Regions from separate parts of the Homo sapiens genome. Here region 2 is reported to be linked to region 1. Evidence: microRNA targets listed by miRTarBase, many of them from high-throughput screens and not tested one by one. Region 1 holds a microRNA gene; the other region holds the end of a gene's coding sequence.
What was found. Region 1 holds the annotated microRNA hsa-miR-1206 (UGUUCAUGUAGAUGUUUAAGC, at 2,978-2,998, opposite strand). A microRNA usually pairs through its seed, bases 2 to 8, with sites in the 3' UTR of a target mRNA and lowers its output. Matches are read on the target gene's strand: a 7mer-m8 pairs with bases 2 to 8, a 7mer-A1 pairs with bases 2 to 7 and ends in A, and an 8mer does both.

Region 2: miRTarBase lists EXOC6 as a target of hsa-miR-1206. Seed matches in the 3' UTR shown: 7mer-A1 at 1,572-1,578.

Annotation. Positions count from the first base shown.
Region 1 is chr8:128,007,500-128,011,898 of GRCh38, reverse strand. It overlaps MIR1206 (microRNA 1206), which reads right to left and starts at 3,001; the gene lies at 2,943-3,001. It overlaps PVT1 (Pvt1 oncogene), which reads right to left. Exons shown (of 9, transcript NR_190187.1): 5 at 2,181-2,309; 6 at 1,455-1,581. It also overlaps the pseudogene RNU4-25P.
Region 2 is chr10:93,057,386-93,061,766 of GRCh38, forward strand. EXOC6 (exocyst complex component 6) reads left to right here. Exons shown (of 22, transcript NM_019053.6): 22 at 838-2,105. The coding sequence ends at 970. It overlaps CYP26C1 (cytochrome P450 family 26 subfamily C member 1), which reads left to right and starts at 3,413. Exons shown (of 6, transcript NM_183374.3): 1 at 3,413-4,082. The coding sequence starts at 3,879. RefSeq lists an enhancer at 3,431-4,340.

The DNA of each region.
Region 1 (4,399 bases):
GATCCCAACCACTGTCAGAGACAGAGCATTCTCTCAGGTTCCTTTTCCTTTTATTAAGTTGCTTTCTGTTTGCCTACTGTTTCTACCTTTCCATTTTGGTTCTGATCTTTGGGGCCACAAGAAGTATATTTGACCTCTTCTCAGCCTTTCACTAATTGAATATCACCACCATCAAGGTCCAGTCTCTACCTCCTAACTCCTCTCCACATCTTCTCTCTGTGAAGCTAAGACGGCCCTAGTTTCCTTGTATTTCTCCATTTGGAAGGCAATAATAGACTGCACCAGACTGGGTGGCTTAAATAATAGAAAATTCATTTTCTTACAGTTCTGAAGACTACAAGTGCAAGATCAAGGTGCTAGTATGGTCTGTTCTGATGAGGGCCCTCTCCTTGCATTGTGGATGGCTCCCTTCTCATTGTGTCCTCACGTAGCAGAGAGAGAAGAGAGACAGTAAGCTCTCTGAGGTCTCTTATTTTGAGGGCACTAATTTCATCACGAGAGCCCCACCCTCATAATCTCATTTAACCTGAATTATCTCCCAAAGGTCCACTTCTTAATACTGAGTACATGGGGGTAGGTTTCATCATATACGTTTGGAAGAAGGAAAACAGTTCAGTCCATAACACTCCCCCACAAAAGATTATCTTGCTAAACAGAAGCAAATCTGATTGAGACATTGACTAAGTACCCACCATGCTTACAAAACATGACTCGTATATGCTGAGGAAATCAATTTGATTGCCCTACCATCAAGACACATATAGTCTAAAGATTGTTGCCATCTACATTTTAGAGGTCCCCGCACCTTAAGACAGAATGAGCCAGAGGCCTGGGTAAATTTGGAATTTACAAATAGAGTCAAAGAAGTCAAGGCAAGAGAAAAACATAGCCCCACCCTTTCATTAGATTTTATTCTAGAGATTAAGACTCCTAAACCAAAATCACAAAATCTCAACCCATTCACTGTTGACTGATTGCCTTCTTTGGACCATGCTGCAGAAATCACAGCAGCAATAAACACGGCAGGCAAATGTGTCAACCCCTGGGGAACTTTAACTTGTTTTCTGCTGTTGTAGTGAGATCAAGTGTGTGTGATTCAACAAGACGGGACATGTGAAACTTCCCTGTACCCCTCAAGCCCAGCACAGAGCCTCATCCAGAGTAGATGCTCAATGATGACACCTTATAAAACAACAAATAATAGCCAAGACCTCTCCTAAGTCTGCTGAGGGGTAGCCACATGGCTTCTTAAAAGTCAGAGGCCATTTGCTATTAAAGAAAGCCATGAGCTTTGCGCAGTGGCAGTATCGTAGCCAATGAGGTTTCACCGAGGTGCGATTATTGCTAATAGAAAGCCACAGATGGTCCTGGAGACCAGAGCCATCAAAACCCTTGTTCTTGTGCGGAAAAGAAGGCAAACCAGGGACCGAACTTGGCTTTTGAAGATGACTCACCACCAAAATCCCAGGTCTTGATGACAGGTTAAATCTTGTAAAACTTTAATTTGGCGAAGAAGTTGGCTGCTGTATTACTCTGTCACATGTCTTGGGAGAGGTCCAGTTTCTGTCACCCTAGCATTAACTGAAAAGCGGGATGAAATATGAAGACATTTTGCAGTTTATAAGAGAAAAGCACCAGGGAGTTTTAACAATTTGGAGAAGTATCATCCTAAAATTGGACTCTAATGGTCACTGAAACCATTGCTGCATTCAGTAAAACTGGGTTGCCTAAAGCTACTGCCATGGAGAATCTAAAACAAGACATAAAGAGGCAGGAATCAGTCACATAGAGGCTTGATGTACAATATGTCCAATGAAGCTTCCACCGGAGAACTGAAAAGCAGTATCTCAGCAGAATTGCAACTTCTGATTTTAGGTTCTTGTCAATCTATTCTAACTCTTAGCAAAAGATTCTTGCTGTTCAGCCTCAGAAACACTTTTATCTTAGTCGACTTTCCTGAAATCATGCTGTATTGAGCTATGATTCTTACTCAAATGTAGTTCCTATGTCAGAATCTCATCAATGAGAAATTTCGCAAGATTGCGTGCCAAAATATCCAGTACCACACTTGCATATTTTTACTTCAAACAGAATTAACACTGCATCTTAGACACAGCGTGGTTTACCCTGCTAGTCATCTCAAACACTGAAGACGGTGACTGTACTACATGATTATTTACCTGCTCAGCTCAGGTTCCCATTGTTCACATTCACATCAAGACAGATCAGCACTGGCACAACCACTGCTTTTATTGGGTATATCAAGTGTTAACAGATCCTTCAATGTGTTTCTCAAAATCTCTGTTGGCCTATGGTAAAGAAAAATAAAATCTATTTTGAAAACTCACAGAGCTCTAGTTAAAGGTTCATTTAATACCACCTATATGTCTTTAATGTCTTTAGACAGAAAAAAAAAAAGCTTTACAGTTCAATTAATGTTTCCCCTTTGGGTGCAATTTAACAGGGAGGGCTTCAGAAAAAGAATGAAAGAGGGCTATTAAACACATTTCTTATATAAAGATACTTGTTCTTATGCAGGACATATAGAATAGGACTTTTTTGTAGCAAATATTTTAAACAAGAGATATTTTGTTATGTGATGCTTTTTTAGCTGCAGCTAAAACAATTTTTAGTCGTGGAAATTCTGAAAAGCTTGTCATTTCTTTTATTATACTTACTAGAATATGATTACTTTTGTTGAAGGACAATATTTTCCCCTCTTTTCCTTACCCTGTGGCCCCCAAAAATGTTTCTGCTAATGATATAAGCAGATTTCTAATACTTTATCTGCTTTTAATCTATGAAAATTAATATTTGGATACTTCATAATTATCTTGATTATGTCACTTGATAAAACAGTGATAGGTATTAATGTTAGTTCAGCCATATATTTATACTGCCTGGGAATAGGTGGCTGCAATTGTGTGGCGAGCATAATTTGGCAGCGTTCACTAGCTTGCAAAAACCTACTGCAAGAGCTTAAACATCTACATGAACACTGATATGAAAAAAGCATGTAAGCCTGACCATAGCTTCTAGTTCCTAGATGGACCTGGCTGTGTTTTTCAGGCCCCAACCTGCAGGGAGCCCCTTCAATCTCATCAGCTGAGTGGGCAGAATAAAGACATCATGCCTGCACATGCTTAGCATTGTGCCCAGCATGGTCAGGGATTGATAAAAACACTTGTGTATTCTCTTTTTATTATCATCACCACCATTATAATCATTACTGAGAGATGCATCCGTAGAGACATCATGTCAGAGAGAAGCAGAGGAACCCAGAAGGCAGCAATGAAACTAACATTTAGAAGCAACACAGGTGATGGGGCAGCCCAGAAAGCTGAAGACAGAAACCATTTCGGAGAATTAGCTGCAAAAGAAGTAGGGAACAGGCATGAGAAGGGGACAGTTCTTTCTGGAGCTAACTCAGTGAACACACCAGAGCCTGTGGGAACATACATTTTTGCATCAGTTTCCTCATTGATAAATTGGAAGAAAGGTACATGGTAGAGAAGGTTACATTAGTCGATATTTGTAACAAGTCAGGGCACATAACAGGCCCTCACTCAAGAGAAGACACTTTTGTTCTCACATCTCCCTTCTTAAATTAAGGAGCATCTGCCCTGTATACAATCCTGCACAAAAATAAATCCACGTAAACAAAATTTCACAGTAACTACAAAAGCCTAATGATCATTAAAAATTCCTGGGAGAAACAGATGACCGTTCACTAATTAATCGGGTTTAGATAAATCAAGCACCACTTAAAGAATCACTGCTCCTTAAAGAGGTAAATGCAACGATTGTCACATGGCCAATTTCTAATTTTTCATTTCTCTGGGGAGACCAAAATGATACAATCTTAGTAATAAATTTCTCCCTAAAGTTTCTGAGGACAAACAATTTCCAGCCTCCTCAGACAAAGGTAAGATGAGTCAACTAGCATTACTGTCAACAAGTATGAAATGTAGGCCACCTTTGTGTCTACAACTAACATACTTTGTTAAGGATCAGATGTAGGACAGTGGTTTGTGGAGTGAAAATTAGGTGGGTGTCCACTGGGCAAGACATTGCACAGCACTGCCTGTGCTGGAAAATGCAAAAGAGAATAAGCTGGATGGGAGTACATCAAACCTAAACCTACACGTGTAGAATCACACTCATGCATACAACCCACATTCTTACTGTTTTCCCATTATCAGGAGACATCAAAAAGTAAAAGGTGTCTCATACCTTCCAAACACATTTCCCAGAAATGTCTGTTAACAGGAAGTACATACCCTTCACAGAATTTCTCCCATGTGTAGATAAATATGTATGTGCACTATATTGTTCTGTCTTGCTCCTACAAAAATGGGCCAATTCTATACAAATGGTACTACAACTTATCTTTTCCAAT
Region 2 (4,381 bases), not on the chromosome of region 1:
CCAGGAATTGGAATGTTTGCCACCAGTGTTACCTAAATCTTAGCATTATGGACTTGGATTCTTTGCAGGTAGAGAAATATGTGATTTGAAAAAAAAAATACAGTAAAAACTGAGGTAATAGGATTTACTGATGCATCTTGTCCAACTAAACATAAATTTAGGTGTTAACTTTTCCCTCTCATTATGTGACAGACTTTTTCTTTACTCAATCATATTTCATTTAAAATGTCACTATTGGGAGACTCTCTGAATCTGCTGTGATTCTGGGGGCTGCTGGATAAGAAAAATAAAAAAGTATCACTATTAAAATTTTCAATTTTAAATTAAAATTGTTATTATTTTCCTATATTTCAAAATATTTGTGGTGTATTTGATTTGAAAGGACAAGAGGAAGTGTTTAAAATAAATGTAAATTTATTTTACAATGCCATGAAATGCAACTGAGGCAAAAACATCGCTATTTTACATTTTCTAATGTTATTTTCCTTTCACCTTATCTTGCTATGAATATGATTAGCAGAGTCTATACAGGGTATGTATTTTAGCATACTTTGTGGAATAATATTAGAAAATAGTATGATAGTAGTAAACCTAGCATATTTTAGATGTACATACTAATGCAAAAATACCACTTAACATAGAATGTAAAATAAAGCTTCTAATTTTTTGCATGGTTACTATATCTGTATGTTTATTTAGTATCTACTTTCTTTGAACTATATTTTTCAAGCATAGGATTAGTGTGGGATAATTCAGAGCATGCCAAGATATTTTACTTGTGACAGCTTAGCTTTTAATTTTCTTTTACCAAGCTTCTTCATTCACATATGTTTCTAGGATGAAGGATACTAGCAAAAAGAACAATATATTTGCTCAGTTCAGGAAGAATGATCGAGACAAACAGAAGTTGATAGAGACAGTCGTGAAACAGCTGAGAAGTTTGGTGAATGGTATGTCCCAGCACATGTAGACCTCACATGGCTTGCACTCAGTGACACCAAATCCATGATTCAATGTTGATCTTGAGCAAGTATTGGTCATGATACAGTAATTTGTTTACAGAATCCAAAAATACAATAGAGAAGATACATGAGGGCTTAAACAAGAAATAGTAATAAATATCATTTGTATGGATTTTTAAATAATCGAATACTATTTTATATATGGAAAAAAATGACCATTTTTTCACTTTTAGGGGAAAATGCAAAAGTGTAATACATAAATTGTCACAAATTATACATGAAATTGATTACAAATACATTTGAAAAACATATGCCTCTACTCATAAGTATTTTTTTCTATTTAGACTTGAATGATAATCTGTTTTTTGATCAGTATATGGCTTTGGAATTCAATCATGTCTGATATGGTAGTATTTCACTACCATTTTCTGACTTTTAGCTTTTATTTTCACCTCAATGTGATTTAAGCAGACCAAAATTTCTAATTCTGCTAATTCTGAAGGGGAAATAGACAAATCTTAAAAGCTGCCTGAAATCAAACTTGATTTAACTCAGTAAGAATGTGAATTATTTGTTCTACTTGGGTGGTTTAATTTAATCGTTCTGAATATGAACAAAAGGTTTTGGATTTTCTAAAGATGCAGTGTTGTTTCTGTTCATCAGGGTTAATATTTCTAACTATATTGCTTGTAGGTGACCCCATTCTGGATTTGTTTGGTTTGGTTTGGTTCCAGTTAAAAGAGAGGACAGGAACTAAATGGGGCTAACCACTTCAGGTGCAGCTTGTGCGAGGGTAGATGGTTCCTGCACACAGAAGTTACCACAGGGGTCAGGTTACTTTCTTCAAATAGCAGATTTCAGTACTTTATCCTCATTGTGGAAACAAGCCAAACCAAATGAACTCTGGAAAACCTAAAACAAATGTACATTTTCCTTTGTGTATGTTTCCGTGGTCCAAATGGCAATATAAATCCAGTCTTTATTCTCCCTTTGTTGTATTTATGCTGAATCTTCCCTTTGCCTTTTCAGGATTTAGGCCTGTAAGAAACTATGCCTGATTCTGTAAAATAAGTGTAAAGAATTATATGTACATCTCTGGATTTTGTGATGAAATATTAAAAATATTGAGCAAGTTGTTGAAAATGCATTACTATTTTGTCTATTCAGAGCTTACTGATTTAAAACAAGTGCTTCCTGGAGAAAAGGCATATTATTTCCTAGTTACTGGAATGGGAGTGGCACCAAAACAGTATATATACATACACACACACACACACACACATATATATACATATGCGCACTTGTTCTCTCGATCATCTCTTAATCCAAAGTATTTAATGTTTTTAAAAATATTACATGAAAAGCATGGTAGTTCTTCAGGCACGGTGAAATCTGGAGGAGAGGAGCGGTGAACAGCTAGCTCTCTTTGAAGACTGGAATGGGGCTGCCCTTCGCGCCTTACCCAGCCTTCCAGCGTACTTGGGGTGTCTTCCCTGCTTTGGCTGAGACGTCCCGGGATTCAGAGAGATACTGCCTTTGCACTGCCTGGAGGAGACCACTGTGGGACCTCTTTACTCTTACCAATAATATAAACACCCTGCACCCCTCCACACACACCCCAGGTTGCACTGTAGGGACAAGAACGAGTGAGTCCTGAGGCATTTGGAACCCTTGAATGGGACGCACAAAGCCCAAAACGCAACAATGTAGATTGACAAGAGTCGTCGGGCAAACTCGGGGGAGGGAGGGAAGGATGTGCAGGGAAGGATGAATTCGGTCCTTGAGACCGGAAAGGTGCTCGTGGGTATCCGCTTCTGGAGGCTTAGGACGTCTTTATGAAGCCTAGGGCAGTAGTGGAACTGCCATCTTTGGAAGGATACCTGACGTGGTAGATCAGAGAGCCGGGAGAGGTGGGGAGCTGTCGGAGAATCTCGGCTGCGCTATCCCTCCTGGGCTTTTGCGATGCCAACGCAGGCGTCGACGACTGCAGTTTCCCTGAAATAGTCGGAGCAAAGGAGAGAAAAGCCCAGTTCTTTCACCTTGGAGTGGCGAGAGAAAGGCACCTAGAAGCTCGAGGGCGGGGACGGCAGAGGGAGCCAGCGGCCGGGGGTGGGCCAGGAGCACTGCGGGGCGCAAGCCCGGGTCAGTTCTGCGCGTTGGGTTCGCCCACTTTCTGAGCGCCTGCGAAGAGCGGGGAAGCTCTGGCGCGAACCCGCAGGCCCCGCCCGAGGACGCTCGCGGGGCGAGCCCCCAGCCCAGCTCGAGCCGCCCCGGCGCCTGCCACTCCCTACTCAGAGCCCCTCCGTGAGCGCGCCGCTGCCCACCGCCTCCAATCACCACTCTGCGTGGAGCGCTTTAAATATGCAAAGACACGTCACGTTGTGTGAACCGGGATCGGTCCGTAGGGGGGGAGCCAATATCTATATAAACGTGTCCAGCGTGGGCCAAGAAGGGTTAAACGACTGGAGGAGGGACAGGTGGGGCGGGGGTCTGCAGACCAGGTTGGCAACACTGGTGAGTTGCTCTTCTTTCGCCCTCCTTCCCTTCTTCTATCCAAAGGGTGCTGAGCCCGGGAGGAGGTGGGAGGTGCCCCGCGGAGCCGGGAGTGAGCGTTCCCGAGGCAGCAGGCACCTTCGAGAGGGACTGGCATTTGGGCCCAGGAGCCAGGAAAAAGTCCTGAGCGTGCCGGCCTCGAGGAAGGCACGTTCCCTAAGGGCGCACGGTCACTGCAGTCTTTCACCGTCCGTCTGTTTTTAGAACAGAGTTCTGGCCTGAGCTTATAAATCTCGGGCTTTGCCCCCAAACCCCAGGCCTTTTGCGGACGGAACAGGTGAGCACTGCGCACTGCTCGCGCCCCGGTTCTTGCGTCCCCTGCTCTCCCTGCGCTCTGAGCGGCCTGGCCCCCGCGGGCTCATCATGTTCCCTTGGGGGCTGAGCTGCCTGTCAGTGCTGGGGGCGGCGGGCACTGCTCTCCTGTGCGCGGGCCTGCTGCTCAGCCTGGCCCAGCACCTCTGGACCCTCCGCTGGATGCTGAGCCGGGACCGGGCCTCCACCCTGCCTCTGCCCAAGGGCTCCATGGGGTGGCCCTTCTTCGGCGAAACGCTGCACTGGTTAGTTCAGGTGAGCAGTCCTTCGACCCCGAGCGCTAATACGGTCCCTTCTTCCCCCGGCTCCCACTGGACCCTCCTCAGTCTCAATGCCCATGGGATTTGTAGCCAGTCCCTGCCCATCGCCCACGACCCCGGGAAGCGCGCACAACTCTCGCCTTTACCTAGATACTCCGTTCCCTCGAAGGGACCTCAAGTCACTGGAATTCCCCCCAGAGCAACTCCCAGACACAACGCAGGGGGTAAACATAAGGGGTTTTAGGAAGGGGTCTGAGGAGCACGTCCTGCAAGGGTAGAAAAGGAGCCTGGAGC